Homo sapiens: one gene and its partners. The protein of the gene in region 4 interacts with the protein of the main gene of each other region in a pairwise test. Each region holds a gene or a part of one and is shown on either strand. Other genes may lie near its edges. The genes, in order: CCDC85A, ANKRD31, GFM2, TMEM132D, TNFAIP8, TPST1 and MME.

Region 1 (4,915 bases), on a different chromosome or scaffold from region 4:
CCCATCATTTATTCAATCAACCACATTTATGGATTACTATGGTGTCCAAGGAAGCTCTGAGCCAAAATAAAAAAGAGAAGGGAGAAGGCTGGCCTCTCCAAAGAGTAAAACCACAGCACACCCAGGGTGGGCCAGAAGCCTGGGAGTCCGCTCCTTGCAGCAGCCCAGGGATGACATGAGAAGAGTAGAAGCTGCATCAGAAAGCAACCTGCCCCCATCATTTCTGAACTTGATAAGGAAGTAGACTGGCAAGTCTTTTAATGCCAGGTCATGAATCTAGATCACAAGGAGACTTTCTTACTTGGGTGTACGGGCCTTTAGCTGACCTAATAGCTACTTCTCTACATGAAGCTACTGGAATGAAGCCCAGGCACTCTACCAACCCACTCTACCATTCCCCTCCCCTACCCACACACAGACATCACACACAGTCAATCCACATAACCTAAAGGAACTTTCAAGTGTTTCTGAGCTATTATTTTGATGCTCCATACTATTAAAACATTTAATAATAACTCTTCCAACTCTTCTAAATCACACTATTGTTCAGACCATGGAAGAAACTCAAATTAGAGGATGACAAACTAATGCCCCCTTGTCCAGCTCTGCCTAAGAAACCAAAATCTTGGGGACACACAGCCATAGATTTGTAAGTCCTTTCCTGATGACAGTAACTACCATTTTATAGTCAAGTATTAAACCTTCCCCTACATAATCATAACTTATTGCCATAACACCCTCAGAAAGTTATTATCATTGCATTGTATTGGTGAATAAAAGGAGGATCTGAGAAAGTAATTACCCAAGCTCACCCTCCTGGCAAATGAGGTTTCTAGAATTCAAACCCACCTCTGAGATCATCTTCCTACTACACTAGCCTGCCTCTATTCCCCAAAGAGACTGGCACTTAATAAACACTCTGTTAGTAATGAATTCAACCACAGGAGAGAGTAAGCCTTGGCATTTTTCTGACTGGAGGAATCTTCCTACCTGCACCCACTCTAGGGACTATATGACAATGACTTTCGGCCTCGGGAGACGGCCATCTCCACCTGAACTGGGCCCAGCACATAGGTGAGCCTTGAGCATTCCACTCTTCCCACTCTTTCTTGCCCCAGAATCCCAGAGCTGGAGCACTGAGGCAATTCCGGAACAGCATCTACTGTCTGATATGTGGGGATAGGAGTGGAAAGGGGAAAAGAACAGCTTGTGCCTTCGGGAATTTGCTCCCTGAAGTCCCTGCAGTGATTTCGTTTGTGTCTGGCTTCCTACAAACAAAGCAGAACAATGAGAGGAAGGAATACCAGGAGGCACCAGCGCTAGCTGGAAGGAGAGGAAGTTTGTGGTGCTCGCCAGCAGGGCGGTTCCCGGCCACTAGTGTACTGCAGCTGGGCAGGCACACTCCTCGCAGACCCGGCGCTCTCCAAGGAGAAAAGAAAGTTAGTGGGCTTGGGGTACGTTTCCCTTCTTTTCCTAGAAGAGGGTGGCAGGGGGGCTGGCTCAGAAAGAAACCATCACTGACCAACACTTGGGGTACTCTGTCAAAATGCTGCTCCTTCCATACTGAGTCTCTTTGCTCCTCCTCTTTCCCCCAGTCAACCTGGGGTTAAGTGGGAAGGGGAGTAAGGCAACTCCAGGGGATGCCTTCCAAACTCCGGGAGAGGGAAAGCACAGGAATTGGGAGAAGACGTGAAGGCAGAGCTTGAACTCCTATGTACCCGGTGACACAAGACTGCTCTGAGGGTGGCGCCCGCTGCTTCTCCCGGGCGCCCCGCCAGCCGCTCTCCCTGGCAGTGGCGCCCTTTCCTCGCCCTCTGCCCGCCCAAGAGCTGCTGGCCCAGAGCAGCCGCATTCCCGACCCTCCAAGGCGAAGATCCCCTGGATTCACCCCCTCACTGGCCTTTCCGCCTAACTGACTGAAACCCGGCTCCCCAGGCACAGATTTTCCAGCCTCCCTAAGAAATGAAAGGTTCGCGTGCCCTTCACCTCCCTCCCTGCTTTCCAGCGTCCTCAGCGCCTCCCCGAACAGCCAGACAGTGGAGCGCCCCGTGTTGGGGAGAGGAGGGGAGCAGACGCCTCCGAAGTTTGGAAAAGTTACACAGGGGCTGGGGACTGGGGGTAGGGGGTGCCGACCGGGAGAAGGGGAGGGTCACCTGTTGAGGGAGGGAGGGAAAGTTTGCCTGGCCCCGCCTCCTCCTCGGGGCACCCCGCTCCCAGCCGCGCCGCGCCTCCCCACCTGGCCCGCGCTCACCTTGAGGCCGCGGATCTCGCCGAGGTGCAGCTGCAGGCGGCGGTTCACCTCGCGGATGAGGTTGCTGTGGTCCAGCATCGCGCTCACCTTCTCCGCCTCGGCGCGCCGCAGGCTGCGGATCAGCTCCTCCTTGCTCCACTGCAGCAGCTCCTCGTCCGACACTTTGGACAGGTCCTCCACCGGCGCGGGCGGGGCCGCGGACGAGCCGGCCGGGGCTGGGGAACAACTTTCCGCCGCCGCCGCAGCCGCCGCCGCGCCTCCGGCCGCCTTCGACATGGTATCCGCGGGGTGGCAGGTGCAAGTGGGTGGAAGAGGCGAGGCGACTCCCGAAGGCGCGGGCGCGGCGAGGCCGCCTCCGCCCACACCCCTGTGCGCTCCGGCGAGTCAGCGGCACCGCCCAGGGGCCGCTGGGTTGGGGCGGCGGGGGTCGCGCTGGGTGGCCATCCTACCTCGCCATCCCCGCGCGCGCGCCCGCGCTCCCCCAGGGCCCGGCAGCCAGCCGCTTGCTGCTGCCGAGGCCCGTCCCAACTCCGCGCAAGTCCATGGTGAGGGGCACTGGGGAGCCCGGGGCTGCCGCGGGAAATCCTCGGGGACAGCGGGGGAGCTGCACCGCCGTTCCCCTGCCCTCTCCTCCGCCCTAAGCCGAGACTGTCGCCCCCCGCACTCTCTGCCCTGCACACAGGCGTGCACGCACACGCACTTTCCTCCCCCTTGCCCAGCTGCAGCCCCCGGCTTCTCCCCTCTCCTAGCTTGGAGGGCGCGCCGGGCACCGCGGCGCCTCCCCGGCTGCTCTAGCGACGCCGCCGCGGCTGCCCGAAGGCTGCTGCGCTCCTCCTGCCGCCTTCGCTGCGCCCGCGGCCGCTCCTAGGCTGCTCCGGAAAGCCTTCGATTTGCAGAGCGGAGTCGAGAAGGGGTGGAGGGTGGGGGACCGGCTGGAGGAGGAGCCTGGAGCTGGGGCCACCCGTAACCCGCAGCAGCTCCCGCATGGGCTGGACGCAGCTGCCACTCGACCGCTGCCCGGGCCCTCGAGGTGCGCTCCCGGCTGTCCTGCCCGGGAGGGCTGGGGGCGCGGCTCTTTCTGCGCCCGGGCGGGTGGGGCTGGAATGGGGAGAAGGTGAGGAGCTGTGGCCGCCCGGTCTTTGGGAGGCTCGCGCGCGCCACCGTGTGGCGGAAGAAGCTCCCTCCTCTGCCCTCTGCACACCGGCCTTGTCACCAGGCAGGGGAAACAGCTGCTGACCCAAATGCGAGGTGCTTCGTATTTGGAGGGATCGGGGATCAGGAAAGATGGGGTAGCAGGACCTGAGGGATAACCAGTTATTTGCACTTTGGAGAATGGGAGGAGAGGCAAATGGCAAAAACGGGGGTTGGGGAAAGGGGCAGCTTAAGAAAATCCAAATGGTCTGAAAAGGGCGAAAAGAGGCGTCAGGGCACTGCTCTTATGGGGCTACCCATCCCCACCCCCCACTCTCGCCCCACCCCTAGGCCTTTGTGTTTTCTAAAAATCCACTACTCTATGAAGAAGCTTCGGGAGAAGGTACTGGATCTTTTAAATTTTTATTTGAAAAATATCAAAGCCTTTAGGCGAAAATAAAATACCTTCATCTCCTGCTTCCTGAAACCTGGATTTTAAGGTCAGCACAGTCACCTCCCCTCGGAGCAAAGCAAGCCCCCTCAGGCAAGCTGAAATGCCAGCCAAGGAGATTTCCATTTTCTTCTATGCCGCAGGCTGCCAGGCGTTTACTGGGTCGGCTTTTTTATGATGGTTATTTCTGGAAGGAGGAAGTCTGAGTCCCTGGCTTCTATCTTTGGGCTATCCTCTTGTAAAGTTGGGTGGAATCGTCTCTGGGCTGAAAACATGCTTTTGCCTAAAGAGGTGGATGCCCTTGACCACCGCATGTTATTTCCAGTGGGGTACAGGGCCGGAAAATGGCAAGGATCTACCCCCACCGGGTTTCAGTTAACCCGGGTGCAGAGGGAATAATCTCTATCTGGTAGGATGATAATCAAAATCAGTCCCTTCACCCGCCGGTCAGTGCGTGTCCCCTATTGGGGACACTGAGACCTGGCTCCCGGGAGAGGCAAGGAAATGTGGTACTGCTTACGGTGACCAAATGGCCTTAACATTCCCCTCAGCTTAACTAAACTTTAGACAGGTTTCTTCCTAACTGTAGGCCCCAGACCTTCCTTTTCTCAGAGCATTTACTTTAGCCAACTTCCATTGGTGAATGTTTCCTCTGACCCTTTGACATGTAAATCTCTCCGCCTCTTGCTGGGTTTTACAGCCTGGGGATCTTTCTCAGGGATCTGTGAGGCATCCCTTTGAAATGTAATCATCAAGGAAAAAAGGGTCCCTATCTCCTAGTGTTTGTGGAGAGGAGGAGCCTAACTTTAATAAGTTCCAATTAGGAAACACAAATGGCCTCATTACACTGACCAACTTCCCATCCTAATCTCCTCCACTAGTCTTCTACTAGTTCCCCTCTCCCTCCCTCTCTCTCTTCCCTATTGCAATAGCCTTGAATAATTCCCCCTTGTCTGTTTAACTATATCGGATGCAATTTTTCTTTGACACCTCCAAGCCGCTCTCACGCCCACAGAAGGCTCTGCTCAACACAGTTCCTAAGACCAGTTTTGTCACAGAAAGGGAAAGTGAAGGTCAGAAAA
Region 2 (3,450 bases), on a different chromosome or scaffold from region 4:
TGGCAAAACTTAAAAAGACTGATAATATTCAGTATTGGCAAAGATGTGGAAGAAAAGAACAGGTACTGTCACACATAGTCTCATAATACTGTTGGTGGTAGTATAAAAGGATGCACTTGGGAGGGCACTCTGGCAGAACCTCTTAAAATGTAAAATGTTTACAGACCCCTCAACTCAGTAATTCTGCTTCTGAGTATCAATCCTATAGAAGTATTGGCACATGCCTGAATAGTGAAAAGTGAGGAATAAATTATGAATTATAAACAAATTATGGTAGATGCATTAAGTTTTTCAAATCATAACTAAAGTGGGGGATAGTATCTTATAGAGGAAAAGACCAGTGTTAAATAATAGTGTTTAAATGATGAAACTAGGCTAATTTTGATGAAAAGAATTTAAATTAATATGTAAAGATTTATTTCTATGGGTTTTTCCTAAGAAAAAAATATTCCTTAACTTTTATGAGATACCTTGTTTCCGGAAGTCTATAAAACAAAGCTCCTAATAAAGGAGTTACTATGTTTACATATGGACCATGTGTAAAAAAGTTTAAATTCTTTGGATTATAAGTGATGATTTAAAACCCACATCAGACCGGCCTCAACCCCTCAAAAAGGAATTTTATTGACTCATTTACATGAAAGACCAGGAACAGATCTTCAGGTTTCATTCAGGGTTCAAAGAGCATGACAGAGCACCAGTTTCTCTTGCTTTCCATTTCTCAGCTCCATTTCCTCATTTTGGCGCCATCCTAATAGCCTTTCTTCTCATCATCCCAGGGCTACATGCTTCCAGGTTCAAGTCTAAAAAAGAAGACTCTGTATGTGACTCTTTGCCAAAATACCCAATAAAAATCTCATTGCACTTTGGGAGGCTGAGGCGGGTGGATCACCTGAGGTCAGGAGTTGGAGACCAGCCTGACCAACATGGCGAAACCCCATCTCTACTAAAGATACAAAAATTAGCTGGGTGTGGTGGTAGGCACCTATAATCCCAGCTACTTGGGAGGCTGAGGCAGGAGAATCACTTGAACCTCGGAGGCAGAGGTTGCACTGAGCCAAGGTCATGCTATTGCACTCCAGCCTGTGCAACAGAGTGAGACTCCATCTCAAAAAAAAAACCAAAAAACAAAAACAAAAACAAAAAACTCATTACATGTCACTTCTCTCTGAATGGGATATGTTCTGACCCCTGAATCTATACCTGTTCACTCATTGGTGTAGATCTAAGCAAATCAGGAGGTTGAAAACAACTCTACCAGAAGCATGTGGGCCAAGCATGAAGAAAGGGTTGGCCATACAGAGGTGACACTCATATTGTTGCTATCTGTGGAATAAGATTCAACTTGCTGAATGATGTACAGCTCATATAGCCAATCTCAGAGAAGAAAAAAAAAAATCTCTCAGACTGTCAGGGAGCTTGAAGAAACCAGTTTTAGGACCATTAGCCCCATAGACTGGCAGAGCCAAAAGGAACCCTCTTTATCATCACTCCTCTCACATCTCAGAGATGGAAGTCTGGAAAAGCCATATGACTTGCTTGAGATCACACACCAAGTTTGTGGCAGAGGCAGGACTAGAAATCATGCAGCCTAATACTCTTTTTAGTACTAAATAATAATAGCGTCTAGTATTTATTGTTTGCTATATGCCCGGCGGTATGCTAAGAATTTCACATGCAAAATCTCAGTTAATACAACTGTTTTATTCTCCGTTTATTGGAAATTGAGGCAGAGAGGAGCTTGTACCACTACCTTCAGAAGCTTCCACCATCCTTTTTCTGCTGATGTTTTAGACTTCAAACAGGCCCCTCTTTCCCAAGATCAACCAATGCTGGTTCATAGCTTTGTCTTGAGTACAGAAAATAGGTTGAGGGAAAAGGTCCTGATCAGAAAACCTGTTATGTGTGCTCTCAAATAGACTTGATTGGATTCTAGGATTTGTAATAGCAAAATTTACATCTTAAATTTCAGAGGGCAGTTTTTAATTTGTTGATACTTCTTTAAACAGGAACTTCCAGAGAGTCAATGCAAAGCAGCCCACGTTATCTACAAATAAATGAAATACTATTAATCAGTGATCAAGAATTTCTCCCATGCCACATAATGGATCAGCATTGGAAGTTTTGTGTGGAATGTGAGGAACTAACACCCTAAAACCTTGGTTTCTTAATATTTTATTGGATATTTGTTCAAATTACCAACAAACATTTATATTTCATCTTGTATAATCTGGTGGGCCTATTTTAACATACACTTTATGAGTTGCTATTTAGGATGTATGTTTACTGTTCTTAAGATGTATGTAACTGTTCAACAATTATATAAGATTAATGCTTTTTTGCCATTGAAATAAAGGCACATTTGAACTAGACCATATTGATTGGCTCTCTGGCTTTCTTTTTACTAATATAAACTTAAAACTAACTTTTCAATCAACACCTCTACCTTTGTATAAAAAACAATTGATCCCTAAGGAAATGAGGATACAAGTAAGTGTAATCCATGGATAATTGGTCCTAAAAAGGCCCAGGTTAAACAAATCCCTTAAGAACTTAAAGTCCTAATACCTTTCACATTTCCTTTGAAGTTTTTCTCAAAATCAAAATGTAAAATTATGAAGGAGGTTTAAGTTTCATAAAATTTAGTGTAGATAGGATTGTAGCTGTGGTAAGTCTTGGAACAAAGAATGAATCAAGTGTTGATTTGGAGTCTGATCATTTAAAATAGAACATCCTTCACCTTTGACTTTTGCTACATTATCACGAAGACTTTTTTTAAAAAAAAGAGATATATTTAAGAGATTTTTCAGTTTTCTCAAGGGTCTCTCTTAATCCTTTGATAGCCAAGTTACTCTTTCCTTGTCCTTCATTACCCCAGGTTCCCAAATAAGCTTTTGGCTCCATGGCCTTATTTATCCCTTCTATTTCTTTTGAGTATAGAAGTCAAAATTGCAATAAACATAACAGGCATACCTCAGAGATACTGCAGGTTTACTTCCAGACTACTGCAGTAAAGCGAATGTCAACTAAAGGGAGTCACGTGATTTTTTTTCCCCCAGTTTCTATAAAAGTTATGTTTACACTATACTGTAGTCTATTAAGTGTGTAAAGGCATATCTTAATCAATGTATGTACCTTAATTTAAGAATATTACTAAAAAATATGAGCATCTGAGCCTTCCGCAGGTTGTAATCTTTTTGGTGGTAGAGGGTCTTGCCTTGATGTTGATGGCTGCTGCCCAATCATGGTGGTGGTTGCTGAAGGTTGAGGTAGCTGTGGCAATTTCTTAAAATAAGACAACAATGAAATTTGCCACATCAATAGTCTCTTTCTCTCATGAAAGATTTATGTGTAGCATGCATTGCTTTTCAATAGCATTTTACCCACAGTAAAACTTCTTTGAAAATCGGAGTCAATCCTCTTACACCCTGCTGCTGCTTTATCATCTAA
Region 3 (4,409 bases), on a different chromosome or scaffold from region 4:
ATTCTCGGATGGAATTGGAGGCCAGGATTCTAAGTGTAGTAACTCAGGAATGGAAAACTGACATCATTTGTTCTCACTCATAAGTGGGATCTAAGCTATGAGGATGCAAAGGCATTAGAGTGATACAATGAACTTTGGGGACTCAGGAGAAAGGGCAGGAGGGGAGTGAGGGATAAAAGACTACACATTGGGTACAGTGTACACTACTTGGGTAATGGGTGCACCAAAATCTCAGAAACCACCCCTAAAGAACTTATGTAACCAACCACCTGTTCTCCAAAAGCCTATTGAAATAAAAAATAAAATAAAATAAGCCTTAGGGGAGAAAACTGTTAACCTAGTTGCTTTTTAGAATATAAAGTCTAAGATTATCTTTAATTATAAATATAATAAACCAGTTATGATAAAGACATAAAATTAAGGGCAATCACAGAGCAAATGTGTGTGTATATAAAAGAGAGAGAGAACATTCTATGTGGGTTCTATTTTTATATATTCAGTTTCTTGGCATCATAAGATTGTGTACATGTCTAGTTTACCTTACTATGAGAGCAAGATCTTGATATTCTCTTTTTTAACTGTAAATAAGTTATTGCCATGACTTTTGTAGGTGATTTTTCAGCTTAGTGACTATAATTACTGTAAAGCTTGATTTCCTTCTTGTTATAATAAACTGCATTAGTTTGAAATAAATAAATAAAAACACATGGAATATTATTCAGCCTTATAAAAGGAATCTTCACTTGAGCCCAGTTTGAGACCAGCCTGAGCAACACACTGAGGCCCTGTCTCTACCAAAAATACAAAAGTTAGCCAAGTGTGGTGGCACCTGCCTGTAGTCCCAGCTACTCAGGAAGCTGAGGCAGGAGGATCTCTTGTGCCCAAGAGTTCAAGGCTGCAGTGAGCTGTGACTGGGCCACTGCACTCCAGCCTGGGCAACAGAGCAAGAGCCTATGTCTCTAAAAAAAAAAAAAAAAAAAAAAAAAATTAAAAAATTAAAAAGGAATCTTGACACATGCTACAACATGGATGAACCTTGAGGACACTGTACTATGTGAAATAAACCAGTCATAGAAAGACAAATACTTACGATTCCATTTATATGAGGTACCTAGAGTAGTCAAAGTCATGAAGAAAAAGTAGAAGGATGGTTGCAAGGGACCGGGGAAAGGGGAAAATGGGAGTTGTTTAATGGGTATAGAATTTCAATTTTGAAAGATGAAAATGTTTTGAAGATTGGTTGCACAATAATGTGAATATACTTAACACTACCAAAATAGTTAACACTTAGAAATAGTTAAGATGGTAAATTTTATGTTTTTTTAACTACAATTTAAAAGACAAAAGATAACTTGGTTAAGGATTAACAAAATCCTCTTTGATGTGAGAATTTAACTTCTGGTTACTTTTTTTGGTTCTTTTCTTCTAGAAACCAGATAACAGAGGTATGTCAACTACATTCCTAGGCAATATAACTTATGGAAAAAACAACTTCTGATTGGTAAACTAAATCTGAATTGCGAAGAACTATAAATGAATTATATATATAAGTACCTTATGGAGATACCGAACTCTGGGCTTCCCTGTGTATGGCATGTACCTTAGGTGACACCTGGAAGCTATGCCTATGAAGTTATAACAAGAGACATTCATTCCTATGGGGCATGAATCTTCTAAGCTAGGGTGGCTCCTATGAATCTTGTCACCTTGCATCTAATCCATTACTCTGGAGCAGCCAAAGAAGATAGCTCCCAGATAGCTACGGGGACTGCTATAAGGACTCTACTAGAAAGAAACACCTAATGCTGGTCTGTTGGTAAGCTGTGGTTCCTGTCCTGTAGCATTCTGAGTAGACGAGTGTCCAGTGGGGCCTATGATAGTCTTACAAGTCTGAATATTTAGTTGAATCTAAGAAGACCCTTTGGTGGGTATTGCAACTATCTTATCTTTAAATTGTGGATTAGACATCAGTAGCTCTATGCCATATTCAAGGTGTGTAAGTTGACTTGTTAACCAAAATATTTTCCAATGATGCTTTTGCTAATGGGGGGGTGGGAAGAGGAGGAATCCATTCTAACCTCCCAGTGATCTTGTATATCCGGAATAGTACAATATTCTTTCTGTGGTGGTAGTTTTGCCTGCATCAATATGAGCCATAATTCCAATATTACGGATTCTGTTTAAAAGGAAAAAATAAGGTAAACTTTACTAAAATTGTAAAACCAAAGTATATATGCTATCCAAATTTCAAAGCTGGTATTTCTATAATTTATAAAACTGTGTAAAAACTAGAAAAATGGAAAACATTTAGAGTATATCCACATTACTCTGATAAGATAGCTAAGTAACAAAAGGGCTAACTACAACCTACAATTTTGAGACTATCTTATATTCATTCTAGAAAAGTGTGCTGTTGTTACATTAAAAATTTTTAGCATTAATTGAGAAAAAATAGCTAAGATACATTATCAACATCTACTTAAAATTGGCTAGGGCAGAAAGTCATAGAAATTACAGCATTCACTCTTGTCCATCAGAAAAAACCTGTAAATTTTCGTGACAGTCTATGGAAAAGCATGATATAATGATAGTACTTACTTAGCTATGGGAGGATTGATGATGGAATGAAGGGATTTGATATCATTTCCTATTAAGCCTAATGAAAAGAAAGTTAAAATTGAACTGTTACATTTATGAAATTTTCCTTTAATTTATAAATGAAAGACTTTAAAATAACTTTAAGCAAATACTGTAAGTCCAAATAAAGTAAAATTCAAGCTAAATAAATCTAAAATAAACTAAAATTTATTTCCTTGCAATGTATAAGGAAAGCTATGGATGACAATAAAACAAGGTAAAAGTTTTAAACATCAAGTTCTAGATCATATCCTCAGAAAAATACAGATTCACCCCAATCTCTGCCACCTACTTCACTTCCATTTACAAAATTGTAGAACTAGAATAAATGCTCATAATAATAATCTTAAGGCAATGATCCTGAATCAAAGAAAAAATTTTAAATGCACAGTCCTATAAACCTGCCTTTTCCAGGGTTTGAAGAGCTAAGAGTGATCCTCATGTCAGCTGATAATGAATTATTATACAATTTGGAACTTGCCTTCCTCAGCAATCCCAGGACACAATACCTTTAAAGACTGCCTGGGAGGTTTCACTGAATAGAAGCTATAACAATTTAATACTTTTGAAAGGCCAAGCAGTATTTCTTAAATAAAAAAGTCCATATGGCTTATTCTATGCTTAATATATAGTTTACTAATATTAAGAAGTAATTTCTAAAGAAACAAGGCAGTTACATTTGTAAATTTAATTAAAGCCTTCCTGTTATTTAAACCATTTCTCCCATGTTTCTATAATACAAAAAGGAGAATTTTATATTATTTTTGAAACTTCATGGTGGTTTGAAGATCAAAAGATAATCTATACTACTACAGTTAAATTCATATTAGCCAAATTCAGAGACCTAGATACACACCAATAACGTAGCCCATTAAATTAATCTGCCCTTGTAAGTCAACAGCCAATCAGTATTTTTATTCTATTATTCTCACATGACAAACACAGTAATGAGAACAGCAACAGAATTAAACTAGTTTCATAGAGTCTACCATACACTTGCTTGTTTCAAACACAGAAAGGACATTCAAAAGTAAGTCAACTCCTCCACCTTCCAGCTTCTGATGCCATGTATCTAACCTAAACAATCCCAAATACTTAGCCAAACTACTTATAACAATCCTCAAAATAAATTATTCTAGTAAATCTCTCTTGACAGAAAACACTTGCATAAAAAACAGAAATAAACTAGAAAAAGAAATTCACAAGAGCACTCTACAATTACACTCACATGTTAAACTTGCAAACTAGCTACTAAAGCCACCAACCTTTCCTTTGCTCAGTTCATCAGCGTGTTCCTCAGATAAGGAGCACAACTCTACTAGTATTTCCTTCTGGCACCTATCTGAACACTCCCGCCCCTAATAATCTCAAGGAAATAGCCAAGAAGTAAAAAATGGTTACAGAGCCCTAATAAGGGAGATTCTTGCAAACAAGAGAGAGAAAAGAGATAAAGCAAACAGCTTAGATAAAATTAGAAGACTCTAACATTTGTACCTGGTAGAGAACTGCAATTTCTTCCAAGCGGCACATGTGGCTTTAATCTTTTTAAACTTGCTCTTATTTTATAGCAGCATATATTCTAGTAAAGAGAAAAAGAAACTTGGCATTAATTTTATTTTAGCATCACTTATTACAGTGTTAATATTGTAATTACGCTTTGTCAGAAGATAAAATATTTTGTATAGCTTTAAAGTAGTCCTAATTTATTAACTCCAATTCTTTTAAAAAGTGACAATCCAAATATATCCTAGGGGAAAGAATAAGGATAAAAT
Region 4 (4,409 bases):
TTCAATATTACTTGCTATGATAAGGGGTCTAGGTTTCTCATTTTCTGAATGAGTTAAAATTTTCCATTTTTCCCCTTCAGCAGAAGGAGACCAATGTAGCACAATTCTCTGGATTTGATATCATCCATCCATTGCCAATGCAATATGGTGAAAATACTTTATTTGTCCTATAAATTATAATTGTGTGAACTGAGCCAGCAAGACAGCAGCCCTATTTTCTGTTCAGCCTTCACTCACACATCTGGAAACCACACCTGGTCCTGCCTTGGGTCCAGCCCTCCTGCCATGGGGCACTTGACCCTTGCTCCACACCTTCCCATCCCTCAGTGGATGGATCGAAGGGGAGCATGATTTTCACGCCCTACAGAGCTTATCCCGAGGCTTGTCCACAGAAATGGGAAAGAAGCCTTCTCTGATCCCCACCAGCATCAGATGAGGCTGGGCGTGAAGTCATTTGTCCATCACACTGTCCAGGCCTGTATTATTCTGTTCTCATGCTGCCAAAAGAGACACATCCAAGACTGGGTAATTTATAAAGGAAAGAGGTTTAATGGACTGATAGTTCCACATGGCTGGGAAGCCTCACAATCATGGCAAAAGGCAAAGGAGAAGCAAAGGCACAGCCTGCATGGTGGCAGGCAAGAGAGCGTGTGGAGGACAACTCCCATTTATAAAACCATTAGATCCTGTGAGACTTATTCACTCCATGAGAGTGTATGGGGGACACCGCCCCCCATGATTCAATTATCTCCACCTGGTCCCACCCTTGACATGTGGGGATTATTACAATTCAAGGTGAGATTTGGGAGGGGACTCAGCCAAGGGGATATCAAGGCCTATCCACCAGTAGAGCAGAAACAAAGAGGGTCTGAAAGGTAGAGAGAGATGAAGCAGGTTCTGGTGGGATCCTTAAAGACCCCGGGTCAGCCTCATCTAAAATCAGCACAACTCTGGACTCCTAAGTCTCTTAAGATAATTCGAAGCTTCATGTAACAGAGTCCTGATGGTGTGGAGTCAGGATAAAGCATGAGGATATTCCACATCCATAATGATAAAACTATGATTATTCATGAGTGCTCCTGGCCTTCCAGGCCTCCGCTTCCATAAGACACATTGACAAGACACCCCACAGAGCTCGCACCTTCCTTGTTGGTTTCTTGTAGTTTCTCTTTTTTTTTTCCTCTGGCAGTTTCATGACTGTCAACTCTTATTAAGCTTATTTTCATACGAATCTCCAAGTCTTTTTACACGTGTTCCTCTCAAACTCCTCTCTCGTACCTCCCAAGTCAGCGTGTGTGATCTACGTTCAGCATGTTGCAATATCCCCTTTGTCTCACATGTTAGATTGTCCTCATCTCAGGTGAGCTTTTGGTCACAACTCTGCCACGCAAAGGCCTTACCACTCCACCCCTTCTGTGTAGCTGCTCTTCTGAGGTTTGCGCGAAGGAGCTCATCTGTTTGGACAGCCACCTCTGATACAAATGTTCACCTGGGCAGGGCTGGGGACAGAGTCCTGGGGTCTCCTTGGAACGTGCTCAAGGTTCATACCACACCATCTGCTACCATCTGAGCTGCTGGGAATCCACCAAAGCATAGCACCCCCCAGGTACACGTCACCGTTGTGTGGACAACAGTGCTGGGGTGAGCGCTAATCCCAGTGCCCAGCATCAGTAAGCACCGAATACAGACCTCTTCATTTGTTTGTAACGTTACTGAAATCTCTATCTTTACTCCACATTCTATCCAGTAGCAAAACAAAGCTCTGTAGATACTGCCACACTCCCACCCCACCCAATGATTTCAGGGATCACTTCTAAGTTTTGAGAGGTTCGGAGTGACCACAACAACCAGGAGGGCTTTGTGATTGGTACAAATGATATCTTGTCTCCTGTGGTCAGTCCACACAGACTATGGTTTGTGCCTCCCTGGTCTTGACCACAAGGCCTCCTCGGGCCAATTGGGCTTCCTCAGCCATGCCTGCACAGCCCTGGCTGCCAGGAAAAGATTCTGCTATTTGAGCCATGCTCGGGCATGCTGCCTGGTCACCTCATACGAACATTCCTTCTGCTTCATCTCCAGGCTATTTAGGACAGAGTGTCTTCATTTGTGGCTCTCCCAATATATTCACGAAGTCAATCTAGAATATTTTTAATTTGTCATTGGAGTGACGTGGCACAGAGCAGCTGAAAAGCCCACCAGCATCTAAGCTGCCCTCCAAATTCTCCTGCCCTTTCCCCTAGTAAAAAAAAAAAATTACTTGGTGAAGGAAGAAGAGAAAGGCTGAGAAACCATATGCCTGGGAAGATAGGTTCTTCCAAATCTTTTCTCTATTGCTGGATACCAGCTTTTGAAATCAAAAGTCAGGAATTTGATTTCTCTGTCTCTCTTTTTTTTTTTTTTTTTTTTGTTTGGAGACAGGGTCTCACTCTGTCACTCAGGTTAGAGTGTATTACATGATCACAGCTCACTGCAACCTCCACCATCCAGGTTCCAGCAATCCTCCCACCTTAGCCTCCAGAGTAGCTGGGACAACAGGCACACACCACTGCACCTGGCTCATTTTTTTTGTTTTGTTTTGTTTTGTTTTTGTAGAGATGGAGTCTTGCTTTGTTGCCCAGGCTGGTCTTGAACTCCTGGACTCCTCAAGTGATCCTCCCACCTGGGCCCCCCAAAGAGCTGGGATTACAGACATGAGCCATCATGCTTGGCCTTGACTTTCCTGTCTCGTGCCTTCTGCTGTTCCAAGAGGCAGTGGCTGCCAGGTGTTCATCTGCACGAGAAAGGAGAGGCCAGGGCAGCAGGGAATGAGAGCAGGCAGGGCAATGTCGCCATCTGTTTTGATATCAAAATACTTTATTGCCACAATATCCTGCCAAACACTCTTTGAGTCTCGGCAGGCTATTTTATCACTGAAGCGTCTTCCCATCTACCAGTATAGCTTTCCTGACCAAAATGCAAACAAACAAATAACAACAATGAAATCTGACAGACATCTTCTTAGTGAATCTGCAGAGGGAGATTCCCATAAACATAAACATTTAATGTCACTCTCGTGAAAAGAATAACTTAATGTCACTAAAAGTTAAACACTTTTTTGGAACCTCTTGTCTTTCCAAATGTACATCTGAATCTCCCTTTATTTATATACTTTACTTACTTCCTAAGAGTGGAACCTCTTGTCTTTCCAAATGTACATCTGAATTTCCCTTTATTTATATACTTTACTTACTTTATATACTTTACTTACTTCTTAAGGGAGGAGAAGTGGCTATTTGAATTCTCTTTCAAAGGCATGTTTTTTACCTTTATAACTGTTGACTGATCTGTTCTAAAACTATGTACTTCAGTCGCTTTTCAGATGCATGCCACAGGTTTGTTTACTTTCAAGGTCAAGGGCCTTCCTTCTCCATCAATTCTTAATTTATGGAGGGGGTGCACCTTGGGTGACTCCTGAAACCAATGTTTAAGGACAGAGGTGACGGAAGCACCTAGCCTCTGACTGTGGTATGTACCCCTTAATTCTTCCTACAGCAGATTTTTCTTTTAAATAAATGACAAAGTCATCTAAAAATATTCCGAGTCTTTGGTCCCATGTCACAACAAATCCATGCTGGTTTCCTCTTCGTTTTGTGAGAGGCCGCACCATATCATCTCCACAATTCATTCAAGTGTGCTGTCTGGCGTCAAACATCAAAATCAACAACGCATATGTTCACAGCATCAAGCATCCTTCTTCTGCAAACAGGAAGAGTCTGTGTCTTCATTCCGCATGCTTCTTCCTCATTCTTTATAATTTCCCAGAGACCACTGATGTGTCACCTACACTTTTGGTCCTGGAAGACCAGAGGCCATGTCTTAGTCTTCCCTGCCCAGGACCCTACACATGTTAGGGACATAGATGAATAAACAGGTCCTGAAGACAGTCCACTGGGCATGTCTGCAAGTTCTTTAAGAAGCTTGACCTAGGGAGGTGGGGGAGGAGGAAAATAAAAATAAAAAAAACAAAAAAGAAGCTGACCTAGGAGATAACCAAACCATTCCACACCATCAGAGAATCTCTTCTACCTCCCTGGTGGTCTTGGAAGTAAATCCCCATTTTAATCCCTTTCAGGTGTTATTTCTGATTGCTGCTGGAAAAAATAATGCTGAGAAAACTAAATAACATGATGTTCATTTATTCATTTGCTCAACAAATATCAAGGGTCATCTGTATACCAGGCTCTGAGCTAAAAACTAAAATGGTCTCAAGACCTCTCTGCACTCAGCCCCTGGCAAGCCTGGCACCATGTAACAATTCTGCCTGACAAACCGCCTGGTTTTTAGTTATTCCATATAATTATCAGAAGTCAGCAGAATGGCCAGGGGTATGGGTTCTGGCATCAGAATTCAGACTCTGCCTGTCTTTTATG
Region 5 (4,409 bases), on a different chromosome or scaffold from region 4:
GGGGAAAGGCGGGGTGTGGTGGCTCACACTTGAAATCCCAGCACATTGGCAGGCCCAGGTAGGGAGAGGATCACTTGAGCCCAGGAGTTTGACACCAGCCTGGGCAACATAGCAAAACCCCATTGCAACAAAAAACTACAAAAAAAAAAAAAAAATTAGCCAGGTGTGGTGGCATGCACCTGTAGTCCCAGTTACTAGGGAGTTGGAGGTGGGAGAATAATCTGAGCCTGGGAAGTTGAGGCTGCAGTGAGCAGTGATTGCACTACTGCACTCCAGCCTGGGCAACAAAGTGAGACCCTGTCTCAGAAAAAATTAAAATTAAATAAAATTGAGGAAAAGAAGAACCAAATTAGATTTGAAATTTGGACCAAAGTAGTTCGTGGTATATAGTAGAGGCAGCTGCAAAATGGTTCCTTATGACCTGAACATCATTTATAAATATACAGTGCCATACATCCACTCAAAGAATGTCTTGATTGAATAAGAAAGGGTCCCCTCACAAATGTCGAAATTTAAACTTCTGAAACATGAACTGAAACTGCAGAAGAACTAAAATATATTTTGAAAAAGAGAAGGAAAGTGAAAATGTGTGAGAAACAGCCAACTTTATGGAGAAGTTTCCATCATTTAATGTTTTATGTTTTTATCATTTAAGCAGAAATCTGTTTCTATTCCTATTCTTCAATGATTTGCAAAAGAGTATAAAGATTAATTCACACTAAAGAATTTATGTCAAAAGAAATGGCATCCATGTAGCTAACAGTATCACATTAAAACCAGGGACCATATTTCATCTTAGAACTCCTGATATAGACCTCAAAAAAAATCAATAAACTTGATTTATATAGGGATACCCAACCATTTTCAGCTACTCAGCAGATAACCAGGATTTCAGTAATATATTACATATAAAGTTGAAATGTTATTGTGTTTTTTTTTAATGTTTTAGAACATGGCACAGTCTACAAATATCTTACCTGGGATTTACTACAAGTCTATCAGTTGGACATACTTTATGTTGTGAAATATTGAAACCAGAGGGAGAGGTATTCATAAGATTTCTCCTTTATCCAAGACTGGACTTTCATGTTTACACCTCTTCTCAGCTACTTTTCTGATTAAATCTCAATATCCCATTTAACTTCAAACATGGAAAACAAAAACTCTATGATACAGCACTTCAACTTCCTGCAAGAGAGTGTGTAACAGGCAAATCTACTGCCAACTAAGCAAGATCATTCCCCATTTACTGGTAATCAAGTATGAATCAAGATAGAGAAGTTGATCTCTGAGGCTTTCATATTTATCCTAGAGGAACTTCAAACCCCGCTCCAGAAACACAGCAGCTGTGTCACACTTTCCTTTTATTCTTTGGGTTATTCCAGTGAAGTCGTCTTTTTAAATGAGGTTGAAGCTCCTTGTTCCCCTCCACCATCTGAAGCTCTTTCTCCCCCTCCACCAAGAAGACATGCATGAGTAGATTTATTTTCCAGCATTAGAGAAAGTTTTTTTGAAGCCAACTGGGGCTTGTGGCTGAGAGTCGCTGGCCAGGGATGTGTGGTCTGTGCTCATGAAGTTTGTTTCTTTTTCTTGCAAATTAACTGCTGTTAGCCATTCCTGTGCAGGCTCATTTGTCAGTTCCACATGCTCTACCAGATCCCTTAAAAGTCTGGTGTATCTCAGAGCTAGTCCTGGATCAAGTTTTTCTCCTTCAGTCTATCCTCACCCCTGTGTGATCTCATCCACTGCCACAGCTTCAGATACCACCCATGTGCCAATGACTCCCATAGCCATAACTCAGCCCTGACCTCTTTTCTGGACTCATTTTGTAAGTGCATTCAAGATTTTTCTTTCCTTGACTATTTTGCAGGCATCTCAAATTTACCATATGCAAAACTGATCTTTGATTCTCTCCTGCCTCCCTACTAAGTGCTCCTCTTTCACTCTTTATGATCTCAATTAATAGCATCCCTTCCAACCTTTTGCTCAATCAAATCAGAGACCTGGGGATCATCCACCATACCATTCTCTCCCTCACCCAGTCCATTATTAAGTTCTTTCCATTCCACCTTCCTCCTGCATTTCTCTGAATTCTATCCATTTCCCTCCATCTCCACGGACAGCAGCCTAGTCCAAACCCCTTTCTATCTCTTTTCACATATCAGCCAGAGTTTCAAGAAATGAAATTTGCAAATGGGGCCGGGCGCAGTGGCTCACACCTGTAATCCCAGCACTTTAGGAGGATAAGGTGGGAGGATCACTTGAGCCCAGGACTTTGAGACCAGCCTGGGCAACATAGCAAGACCCTGTCTCTACAAAAAAAACTCAAAAAAAAAAAAAAATAGCTGGGCATGTAGTCCTATTTGCTCAGGGGGCTGAGGTGGGAGGACTGCCCGAGCCCAGGAGTTCAAGGCTACAGAGCTGCAGTGAGCTATAATCATGCCACTGTACTCCAGCCTGGGCGACACAGCAAGGCCCTGTCTCAGAAAAGAAAAGAAAAGAAAAGAAAAAAAAAGATGCTTCATGTAAGTTCTTTGCTAACTATCACACCTCCTTGTTCCTTAAATCCTCTTCATTTGCCTACATTTTTATTGTCTGCCTCTCCCTACTAGGATTTAAACTCTGAGAGCAAAGATTCTGTGTATCATGTTCACTGTGTCAACTTGCAGGCCTAGAGAGTGGCTGGTCCAGAAGCAGCAATCAATTTCCCCTATCTCATCCACAATATACTCAAATACTTTTCTATGAAAACATGTTGGCCTGTAAAACGAGAGTTGTAAATACATTAGTGGGTGTTTTTGTTTGTTGTATTAAAAGGTAGAAAAACAGGTATTTGTTTTACCTCACTAAACATGTGGTTTTTCTTCCCTCTAAGTGCGCTCCAGAGTATGATTTCTCTTACTGTCATCAACCAGTTCTTTTAAAGAGGAGAGATTTGTTGTGCATAATGGGAAAACATCCAAGGACAATAATGCAAATATTTAGAGTAAAAGCAAGGTGTAGTTCTGACTTGAACTGTAGCAGGAGATTAAACACAGGCCCACCTCTACTTCTGGCTGGATCTATGTTTAGACATGTGCCAGAGGGATACCTAAGGCATGTCCTGGGAAGCAACTAAGATGTAAACAGGAGATGTTCCCCAAGGAGAAAGTGCTGAAAATATTCATTCAGTTTTTTGCCTCTTAAGATCAATTCACTTGTGTTTGGAAACAGACATGTAAATTGTTCATTAATGAAGAATAATGCTGTATTTAAAAAAAAATACAAAGCATTACCACCACATTAAAACTGTTTAAGATTATTTTCTAGAAATAGGGTGTAAATGTTATTTTACATTACTTATCTTACCTCCCTCCCTCTCTGTCTCTGTATCTCCTCCCTTGGCCATTTCAGCAACATTTGCTGTAAGGCAAAGTGATATTTAGGGAATTCTGGCTTTAGCATCAAAATTATAAAGTTAGAGATAAATATGGTTAAAATATACTGACCCAAATATTCAAGAAAAAATATGCTCAGAAGGAAAAAAAAGTCCTTTGTTATTAATACTTAGTTTTATGAAAATTAACAAAAATGCCCCATAACATAACTACTCCCACTGAGAATTTTCTAATAAAGTACTCAAATCATTTTCTTTACAGTCTTACCAGTAAATACATAATTTTTTCCCCTCAAATCTATTATACTTGGGACTCTTTAACAGTGATGACAACAGATGTACATACATTGCAAATTCTTGCCTAGTTAAAACTCGATCCAGGTTTCCAATATTAGGAAGGATAGAAAAGATAATAATTTGGAAAGCATGTCTGGCTGTTGTCTGTTAATAAAAGTTCTTTAAATAAATATATAAAACCTTAGCTCTCTTGTATCTAAATAATTCTAAATCTAATGGGACTTAGTAAAAAGTCAGCTTTGGTGATAAGAAAGTGGCCAGAACAAACAACGAACCCTGTCATAAGAAGTCAGCAGGCGAAGAGTTGACCTCCCTACATGGAGATTTGGCAGTGCTCCAGAGAAAAGCAATGAACGCTCGGAGTAGCTAGTGATGTGTCAGTGTCACCAGCTTTCATACTCAAAATCCCAAAGTCAGAAATTCAACAGCATAGAGAAGAAACAACAGAGGGAAAGAGAGAGGGAGAAGGAAGGAAGGAAGGAAAGAGAGGGAGGGAGGGAGGGAGGGAGACCCAGTAGAAGCAGCACAGATATGAACTCTAAAGGGGGCTGCCCTGGAAGGGTCAGAAGCAACGACCATGGCAGCAAGCTGGAGGCAATCTTATCAACTAGAGAGAGAAGACAAGTGCCAGGCACCTTAATCCCAAAATTGGCCTTATGCCACACAGATGGAGGCTGTCACACAGAACATAGTCTTGGGAGAATCAATACATCTGAAGTCCTTAACCTGATACGGA
Region 6 (4,409 bases), on a different chromosome or scaffold from region 4:
CTTATTCCCCAAAAAGCAGTTTTTGAGAGTAGGGATTCAATCTTTAAAAAAGAAGTATGGCTGGCCAGGCATAGTGGCTCACACCTGTAACCCCAGTACTCTGGGAGGCTGAGGTACATGGATTGCCTGAACTCAGGAGTTTGAGACCAGTCTGGCCAACATGGGGCTCTACCAAAAATACAAAAAAAAAAAAAAAAAATTAGCTGGGCATGGTGATGCGTGCCTGTAATCCCAGCTACTCGGGAGGCTGAGATGGGAGGATCACCTGAGCCTGGGAGATGGAGGTTGCAGTGAGCAGAGATCATGCCACTGCACTCCAGCCTGGATGACACAGAGAGACTCCATCTCAAAAACAAAAGAAGGAAATATGGTCTAGTTTAGACTCACCTCAACCAAAGCAGCTCTTGTTTTATATTGGAATTCTGGGTAAGATTTTCTTTCAAAAAGGGGTTCAAATATTATTTTGCTTTTAAGTTTTAAAAAACAATTGTAGCCTACCAGAAAAGACTAAAATACCAAGTGTTGGTAAAGATGTGAGGCAACTAGAACATGTTCATTTACAGTACAGCCATACATGAATGATAGAGACACTTTGGAAAACTGTTAGAAAGTATCTGTTAAACACACACACACACACACAAACACACACACACACACACACACCCCTTGTCATCCAGCAATTCTATTCATTGGTATATACCTAAAAGAAATGAATGCTATATCCACCAAAAGTAATGTACAAGAACGTTCTTAGCAACTTTGATCCATAATAGCCCCAAACTAGAAAGACCCCAAATGCAAAAATCTTGGAATAAGCATGGTAGGTTCTACTCATGATTGTGACATGTTAATTTTTGAAAAAACATAGAGCCTTACAGGGCCTCCATTCCACATACTGAAATGCTAAGTAACATCTCTTTACTTTCTAAAATTCATTAATTCATAATATAATTTCTATGAATTTTCTTGGCCTTTATGTTTACCTTAAACATAGCAAGTATATACACAAAATGTTCTCTTCCTGATTAGCACCAAAATTTAACTTAAGCATATCTCTTTAATCCCTACTGAAGAGGCTGGTGGTCTAATGGCCTCCTTTTATATTAGCAGATGTAGGTGGCATCGGTGCCGGGCCAACATACAAGCACAAAGACTGAAATACCTAATACAGGTGATTAAAAATCAATTATAGTCTATTATCTGGAAATAATAATAAACTGCAATCAGAGTAGCCAGAGCTGAAATTTTCTTTGAATCAATAAAAACAACCTAGAGCCACTACAATGATGGTATGTCATAACTTATAATCAATAATTGAAAGCTTGGTACAGGCAGGCAGCTGTTCCTTTGAGATTATCTACATAAGAAATCTATTTACTATACAAGTTCTATACAGCAAAAAAAAATTAAGCAGATATTCCTTGGTGAAAGTAAGAAGGGCACACAAGGAAAGTATTTTTTACAGGTGTTATATATTACTTTGATAAAAAGTATATATAACACCTTTTATATTTCTTTTTATATATGTATATATAACACCTTATATATTTCTTTTTTACAGGTGTTATATATTACTTTGATAAAAGAAAAAAAACAAAAATAAAATTTAGTTATAGCCAACTCTTCTTCATGAAGAGATGCTACCTGAATTTAATAGTAGTTTCCATTTTTATATCCTCATTCCAGGTATATAAGTCATCAAGACAGGTTAGAGGGTATACTAGTTGTCACTTCATAAGAAAAGAAGCAAAATGCTAAAAATCATCATTTGAGAAGTTTTGAATCCAAGGAACTTCTTGTATGGATTAGGCTTCCAAATTTTGGAGATTCTCTAGCCTTTTGTAAAAAATAAGAGAGGTTATATCCTTCAGATGACAAAGGAAGCACAACACGTAGTAAAATGCCACGGAGAAAAGCACGACCTCATTGAGACCAAGGCACAGATTCGAATTCTGGCCTTGCCATCTAAATCTGAACAAATCGTTTTAATCTTACTGTGACTCAGTCTTCTTGTCCATAAAATGAAGAGATTAGGTTAGACGAAGCTTTTATTTTTCTCTACCACTAAAAATTTCAAAATGCTTATAATTCACTATGTGCTCATTAACATGATATATGCACTTCCTGATTTTAACCTTAATCCACACAAAAGCCAACTATCCTCATTAACAACAATATCTAGAAATTAGAAATCAGAAGCCACTAAAACTGAATGATTGGCATTAAGGTCTGAGACCCTGAAGAAGGCTTTTCACCGCCTGTAAGGTGGGTTTGTATCCATCAAACAAATAAAGAGGGCCACGATATATAAATGAAAAAATGAAGTATAAATAAGTGAACATCTGTAATAAACTAGTAGAGAATTAATAAAAAAAGAAACCTCATCAATGAAGCTGTATCTGTTCCAGAAAAGGTCTTCAGTTTCTATATATACACACAGGAACATACACACATATATACATAAAACACATACATACATATGTATAGATCATTATTAGCTAAATATAGAGTCAAAATAAAAAACGTATCTTCTACTCACTTTGACAGAGACACTCCCCCAGCTTTCCCAATCATCTCTTCATGGTGCAATACTGAGTGGTTCCATGGAATCTGGAGGAACTTTAAGAGTGTTCTCATCCACCGTTCAGGATGTAAGACAAGTTGTTCATAGTGAACCAACATGCACTTTTTATAACCAACCTCCATACACTGGTTATACATGGTCTCTATAGCACGATTCCACTTTGTCAAACAGTCCCTATAGCTGTTCAGATCAAATCCAGCTATAGTAACTTTTCGAGAAATCATTGAATGTACTGATGCCCGGCCATCTCGGACCATCAGGAGAAATTTGGCATTGGGGAATAACCTAGAAAGGTAAGTTAAAGATTTCAGGGCAAAAGGATCTTTATTACATAAATAAGGGGCTGGCTCCCCATGCTTAACGATAATTTCTAGTAAGAAGGCTTGCATGGCAGAATCCAGCACTTCATCAGTAACACCAGCCTCATCCAGGCGGATCTTCTCTTTACTTGACCGTGACCACATCTGCTTCAGGGCCAGGATTCGGGGAATGACCCTGGTTTCCTCTCCACAGCGAATGTCAGGATGTGCGTCCAGCATGGCCCTCATGAGTGTGGTTCCACTCCGAGGCACACCTCCAATAAATATTAAAGGCATATCTTTGTGATAGGCAAAGGTTTTGTTGGCTTTGAGGTCCAGGCCAGTTCTCACAGTGGTCCTTGTGCTCTCCAATTTGACTGGCTGGCTACGTTCCTCTATCCGGTGATGGCATTCCATGGCATGCTGGCCCAGGTAAAACACAGTCACAGAACTAATCACCAGACATGCCAATAGTAAGTTCTGCTTCAGCTTTCCAACCATCTTGATGTGGTTATCTTGTTATTAAACAGATATTTTGCTCAAAATGATTTTCGGAAAATGTTCAGGCCATGGACAGTCTACTTCAGAAAGATAACCAACATCTAGTAGAGAAAGGAAAAGGTTATTTATCATTACATTGAGATTGCTTACAAATCAGTCACCAGTTATCACCACTGCATTTTAGGTAGAAAGAAGCTGAAACAGTCTTGGATTCTTTGATATTCTTAAAACAAAATTGAGACCGGGCGCGGTGGCTCACACCTGTAATCCCAGCACTTTGGGAGGCCGAGGCGGGCGGATCACGAGGTCAGGAGATGGAGACCATCCCGGCCAACACGGTGAAACCCCATCTCTACTAAAAAAAAATACAAAAAAAATTAGCTGGGCATGGTGGCGGGTGCCTGTAGTCCCAGCTACTCGGGAGGCTGAGGCAGGAGAATGGCATGAATCCAGGAGGCAGAGCTTGCAGTGAGCTGAGATCATGCCACTGCACTCCAGCCTAGGCAACAAAGCAAGACTCTGTCTCAAAAAAACAAAACAAAACAAAACAAAACAAAAACAAATGAGTAAAATTTGTTTTACTCAGTATATACAGTATATACAAATTTGAGTAAAAATAAATCAATGTTTATAATCAGAAACAGCTTTTGTTAATGAAGTAATTTTGAAGCTATGTACCTGGTAAAGAATGGAAAATAAATAAAACTATTTCTATCAGTGAGTCAACCAAATATTTAATAAGCCCAAGAATGTCTGGAGTCCAACCCAAGGCTGATCTCTGCTATTCAGACTTGCTTTACCTCCAAGCAGTCATTATCTCCACATTCTAACAATGAGAAATTATAGAAGAAATATGAAACAACTTCCAAATCTTTAACAGAGATTCAGTTTATTATCCCACAATTTATTTAGGTACTACAGACCAGATAGGCTCGACTGAGGACCAACTTTGAAAAGGAAAACAGTATAGTAACTTCTGCTGTTGGAAAACAAAGCCTTTTGACAGACAGATATGTAAACAATAA
Region 7 (3,500 bases), on a different chromosome or scaffold from region 4:
TTTCCTTCACTATAGTTGGTTCGTTTTATTTTGAACTGTGTGGGTCCTTCCACCCTGGGTCCCACAGCCTTCCCACCCCACCCCTGAATAACTAAGTTTCTGGCTAGTTCCTATCTCAGAAGAACAAAGAATAGAGGTCTACTTTGAGTTGGCCATCCTGCACCTGAGGTTAGCATGCCATTCTTCACTCTGATAACTTTAGTTGCCAACTCTGCTCTTCAAAGTGCTGTGACTTTTGAAAGTCTCTGAGACTCCAAGCCATGGAAGATTGTTAATGAATTTTTATCATTTTAGAAAAGATCTGAAGACACTGTTATTACTTCCTGGACCTTGCTCAAATAAATTTTGTAATTCAAATTTGACATCCAATTTGCATTTGTTTATATAGAGTCTGTCATTATAAAACTGGCTGTAAGCTTATTAGTTTTTCTTAGGTCCACTTTTATCTTTCAGGACTATGATGAAAATGCAAATCAACCAACACTGAGTATTTACAATCAAGACGTTGACTCTGGTAGGAGCTGCAATTGATAGAAAGATGTATAAAATAGGAATTATTACCAACGAAGAGGAGAATATGGCCCAATACCCATAATGTCTATACCCGGAACAGAGAAAATTCTGCTCCTGCCCTCCCCACTTTGAGTCTCATACAAGTTGAACTGTTTTGCAATGAAAACAAAAGAGCAATTGAGAATTCATCTGTATCAAGAGAATATAAGCTCTCAGATGAGCTTTTGAAAATACTTCACTTTATGAATTAATTAATTAATTAAAAACTTCAAACAATTGCTGAGCTGTGTGGATTTTTTAAACTTGGTATGGTAAACATGGTTTCCAGCTGAGCCTCAAGCCCCCCCATTGAACCACTTTTTTGGCATGTTTGCTTGTCTGGAACCTCAGGACCCAGCTCTTTAAAACAAAACGCTCAGGACTGTTACCAAACCAGTCATCTCATGAGTTGTATGCCTTAGTATACAGCACAGTTGCTATCATAGCCTCCTGGATTTGAAACTTTGGGTAAAACTGTATTTCTATTTCCCCTTGGTTTACTGGTAATTCCTTTGCCCCTCTTCCATACCTCTCATTCTGATTGGTACCTGGTTTATATCATCATTCCTTTTTGACTAGAAGTCACCCAGTTCTTCATCTTGATATATTCTACACATCTTCCACAAACCAAACTTCCCGAAAGACTCTTTGACACTGGCCACAACCTTGCTGAAAAATGTCAGTGGCTTGACATTTCCCAGGTTAAATTATAAAAGCTTGGCAGGGCACAGTGGCTCACGCCTGTAATTCCAGCACTTTGGGAGTCCAATACCAGCCTGGCCAACATGATGAAACACCAACTCTACTAAAAATACAAAAATTAGCTGCCCATGGTGGCAGGCACCTGTAGTCCCAGCTACTCAGGAGGCTAAAGCAGGAGAATAGCTTGAACTCGGGAGGTGGAGGTTGCAGTGAACCAAGACAGCGCCACTGCACTCCAGCCTGGGTGACAGAGAGAGACTATCTCAGAAATAAAAATAAAATCTTTAGCTTGGTGTCTAAACCTTTACCAGAATAAACGTATCACCCTACCTTCCCCTTTTCCTCTTTTGGTGGTTTATGCAAACTCTGTTCCAACCAGATGGCCCTCGTCAATGTGTCACAAACACTCCTTGTGTTTTCTTAGTCCTGTGTCTTTGCTTTAACCTCCTCATCCCACAGCTTTGATTGCCCCTGTCATTCTTTCCAAATTCTACCCATCATTCAACATTCAGCTCATGTTCCATCTCTTCCCTGATGCTTCTGTGACTCCAAACTTCAAGGAATATTTCTCTTGACTCCTGAGAGCTCATTGCCTCACTCTGTCTTCAATGTGAGACTACTTTGAGTTTTTCATTGTAAATACCTACTCTGTCTACCTAACCATTTTGTTGATGTGATTAATCTCTTTGTATCACCTAGCACCTAGGTAACAGGGGTGCAATTATGGTTATGTGTGACTGAATCATCTATGAGTCTTCTTACCACCTTCTCTTACAGCCCATCACTCACCTCCTCTCCCCTTGCCACAGAGGTCAGATCCGTTCTCAGTTCATTGCCTCCAGAGTCCATTCCATCTTTCCCATTGTTTCCATTCTGTCTCAAACCCTCTTTCTCTCAGACTCTATTTGTGCCCTTTTGACAAAGTTGTGGCCCCAGGCCTCTTCTTACCTATGTCCATTCTGTACTCCACAGGCAGATTCATATTCTCAAAATACTTCAGAATGTCATTTTCCACTCCAAAGTTTTCAATACCATCCTTTTGCAATCATAATAAAATCCAGATTCCATAGCACATTCTAACACTAATAGAACGAATGAAGCTTCTCCTTTGCTACTTTCTCGCATGAGCCATCTGTCACAGTTAAATGAGTATATTCAGTTTCTGTGAGACACCTTATGGTTTTCTGCCTCTGTAACTTTGAGCATGTTACCCAGCCCCTATACGTACTAATAAATATTATTTCATATTATTTCATTTTGGAATTTCAGGCATTTTCAAAGCCCATTCCAAATACTTCTTTATGAAAGACTGGCCTGACAAAAGTCTGTATCAGCTCACAACATATTCATTTTTCGCATGCAAATTCATTATCTCCTCACCTGGACTGTGGCTCTGTGAAAATAGAAAATGCATATTCTCTCTCACAGAGCCTAACACTGTGCTCAGTCAAGACTTGCCAGTAAAAACTCCAACTTTAACACCTCAGTTAAAGACTAGGAAACTGATCTAAAAAAGGTAGAGAGAAAAAGCAATTCCCTCGAATTTTGAAGGAAATAAAAATATGGTAACGGGAAAGGTGAAAAATAAAGATCCTAAATACATAGAGGATTATTATGTAAAGTGAAAAACCAGAAAACTAGAGCCTGAAAGAAGTGCTAACTACAGACATTCTAAGAACACACTTAGCAATATATAACTCTTCTCTTTTAAGATACTTAAAAACATTTAAACTGAATGTTGTGAAGGCTATGCCATTTGGAGGGGGCACTTCTGTTTTCTTCCTCTTTCTGGGGAAATGAAAGCTTCTGTCACGACATCACAGAGCAATGAACTCTACTCAGAAAAGTAGTGAACAATTAATGAACAAGCAGAATGAACAAGCAGAGCATGAACAAGCCCTACTGCCTATTTGGAAATACCACCGGTCCTTAAACACTCTGAATAAAAAGGATGGCTGGAAGTTTCAGTTCTCTGATCATGAGTGCAAATTCTCCATCCTGTAAAAGCAACTGTACTTCCCACATCTCCCAGGGGGCAAAAAGTACAGTTAAATTACTTGCATCTGCACAACAAACCAAAGAAATAACATTCAGTTTGTGAGGGATGTGCAGAGCAGAGAGAGGAAGAGGCAACTTTGCTAACTCCTTCCAGGGCCACTCTTTAAAATTTCCCTTTGACCACCGAGCTTGTCTGAGCATGGATGCATCCAATCACTTCAAAGAGCGCTCTCTGTTCTGATGAATAT

What was found.
Region 1: the proteins of TMEM132D (region 4) and CCDC85A interact in a two-hybrid assay, tested with the Homo sapiens proteins (one large-scale study listed by BioGRID).
Region 2: the proteins of TMEM132D (region 4) and ANKRD31 interact in a two-hybrid assay, tested with the Homo sapiens proteins (one large-scale study listed by BioGRID).
Region 3: the proteins of TMEM132D (region 4) and GFM2 interact in a two-hybrid assay, tested with the Homo sapiens proteins (one large-scale study listed by BioGRID).
Region 5: the proteins of TMEM132D (region 4) and TNFAIP8 interact in a two-hybrid assay, tested with the Homo sapiens proteins (one large-scale study listed by BioGRID).
Region 6: the proteins of TMEM132D (region 4) and TPST1 interact in a two-hybrid assay, tested with the Homo sapiens proteins (one large-scale study listed by BioGRID).
Region 7: the proteins of TMEM132D (region 4) and MME interact in a two-hybrid assay, tested with the Homo sapiens proteins (one large-scale study listed by BioGRID).

The regions. Positions count from the first base shown.
Region 1 is NC_000002.12:56,182,237-56,187,151, reverse strand, and holds the start of CCDC85A (coiled-coil domain-containing protein 85A), read right to left. Parts: upstream 3,163-4,915; 5' UTR 2,528-3,162; coding exon 2,252-2,527; intron 1,455-2,251; exon of another isoform or gene 1,382-1,454; intron 1-1,381. UniProt on the Homo sapiens protein: May play a role in cell-cell adhesion and epithelium development through its interaction with proteins of the beta-catenin family.
Region 2 is NC_000005.10:75,067,224-75,070,673, reverse strand, and holds the end of ANKRD31 (ankyrin repeat domain-containing protein 31), read left to right. Parts: intron 1-2,009; coding exon 2,010-2,155; 3' UTR 2,156-2,377; downstream 2,378-3,450. UniProt on the Homo sapiens protein: Required for DNA double-strand breaks (DSBs) formation during meiotic recombination.
Region 3 is NC_000005.10:74,756,771-74,761,179, forward strand, and holds part of GFM2 (ribosome-releasing factor 2, mitochondrial), read right to left. Parts: intron 4,217-4,409; coding exon 4,132-4,216; intron 2,657-4,131; coding exon 2,599-2,656; intron 2,177-2,598; coding exon 2,079-2,176; intron 1-2,078.
Region 4 is NC_000012.12:129,893,578-129,897,986, forward strand, and holds part of TMEM132D (transmembrane protein 132D precursor), read right to left. Parts: intron 1-4,409. UniProt on the Homo sapiens protein: Regulate neuronals morphology via inhibition of the WAVE regulatory complex (WCR), a complex that controls F-actin cytoskeletal dynamics.
Region 5 is NC_000005.10:119,386,732-119,391,140, reverse strand, and holds part of TNFAIP8 (tumor necrosis factor alpha-induced protein 8), read right to left. Parts: intron 3,398-4,409; exon of another isoform or gene 3,389-3,397; coding exon of another isoform or gene 3,349-3,388; intron 139-3,348; exon of another isoform or gene 1-138. UniProt on the Homo sapiens protein: Acts as a negative mediator of apoptosis and may play a role in tumor progression.
Region 6 is NC_000007.14:66,239,401-66,243,809, reverse strand, and holds part of TPST1 (protein-tyrosine sulfotransferase 1), read right to left. Parts: intron 3,486-4,409; 5' UTR 3,385-3,485; coding exon 2,540-3,384; intron 1-2,539. UniProt on the Homo sapiens protein: Catalyzes the O-sulfation of tyrosine residues within acidic motifs of polypeptides, using 3'-phosphoadenylyl sulfate (PAPS) as cosubstrate.
Region 7 is NC_000003.12:155,111,319-155,114,818, reverse strand, and holds part of MME (neprilysin), read right to left. Parts: intron 1-3,500. UniProt on the Homo sapiens protein: Thermolysin-like specificity, but is almost confined on acting on polypeptides of up to 30 amino acids. Biologically important in the destruction of opioid peptides such as Met- and Leu-enkephalins by cleavage of a Gly-Phe bond.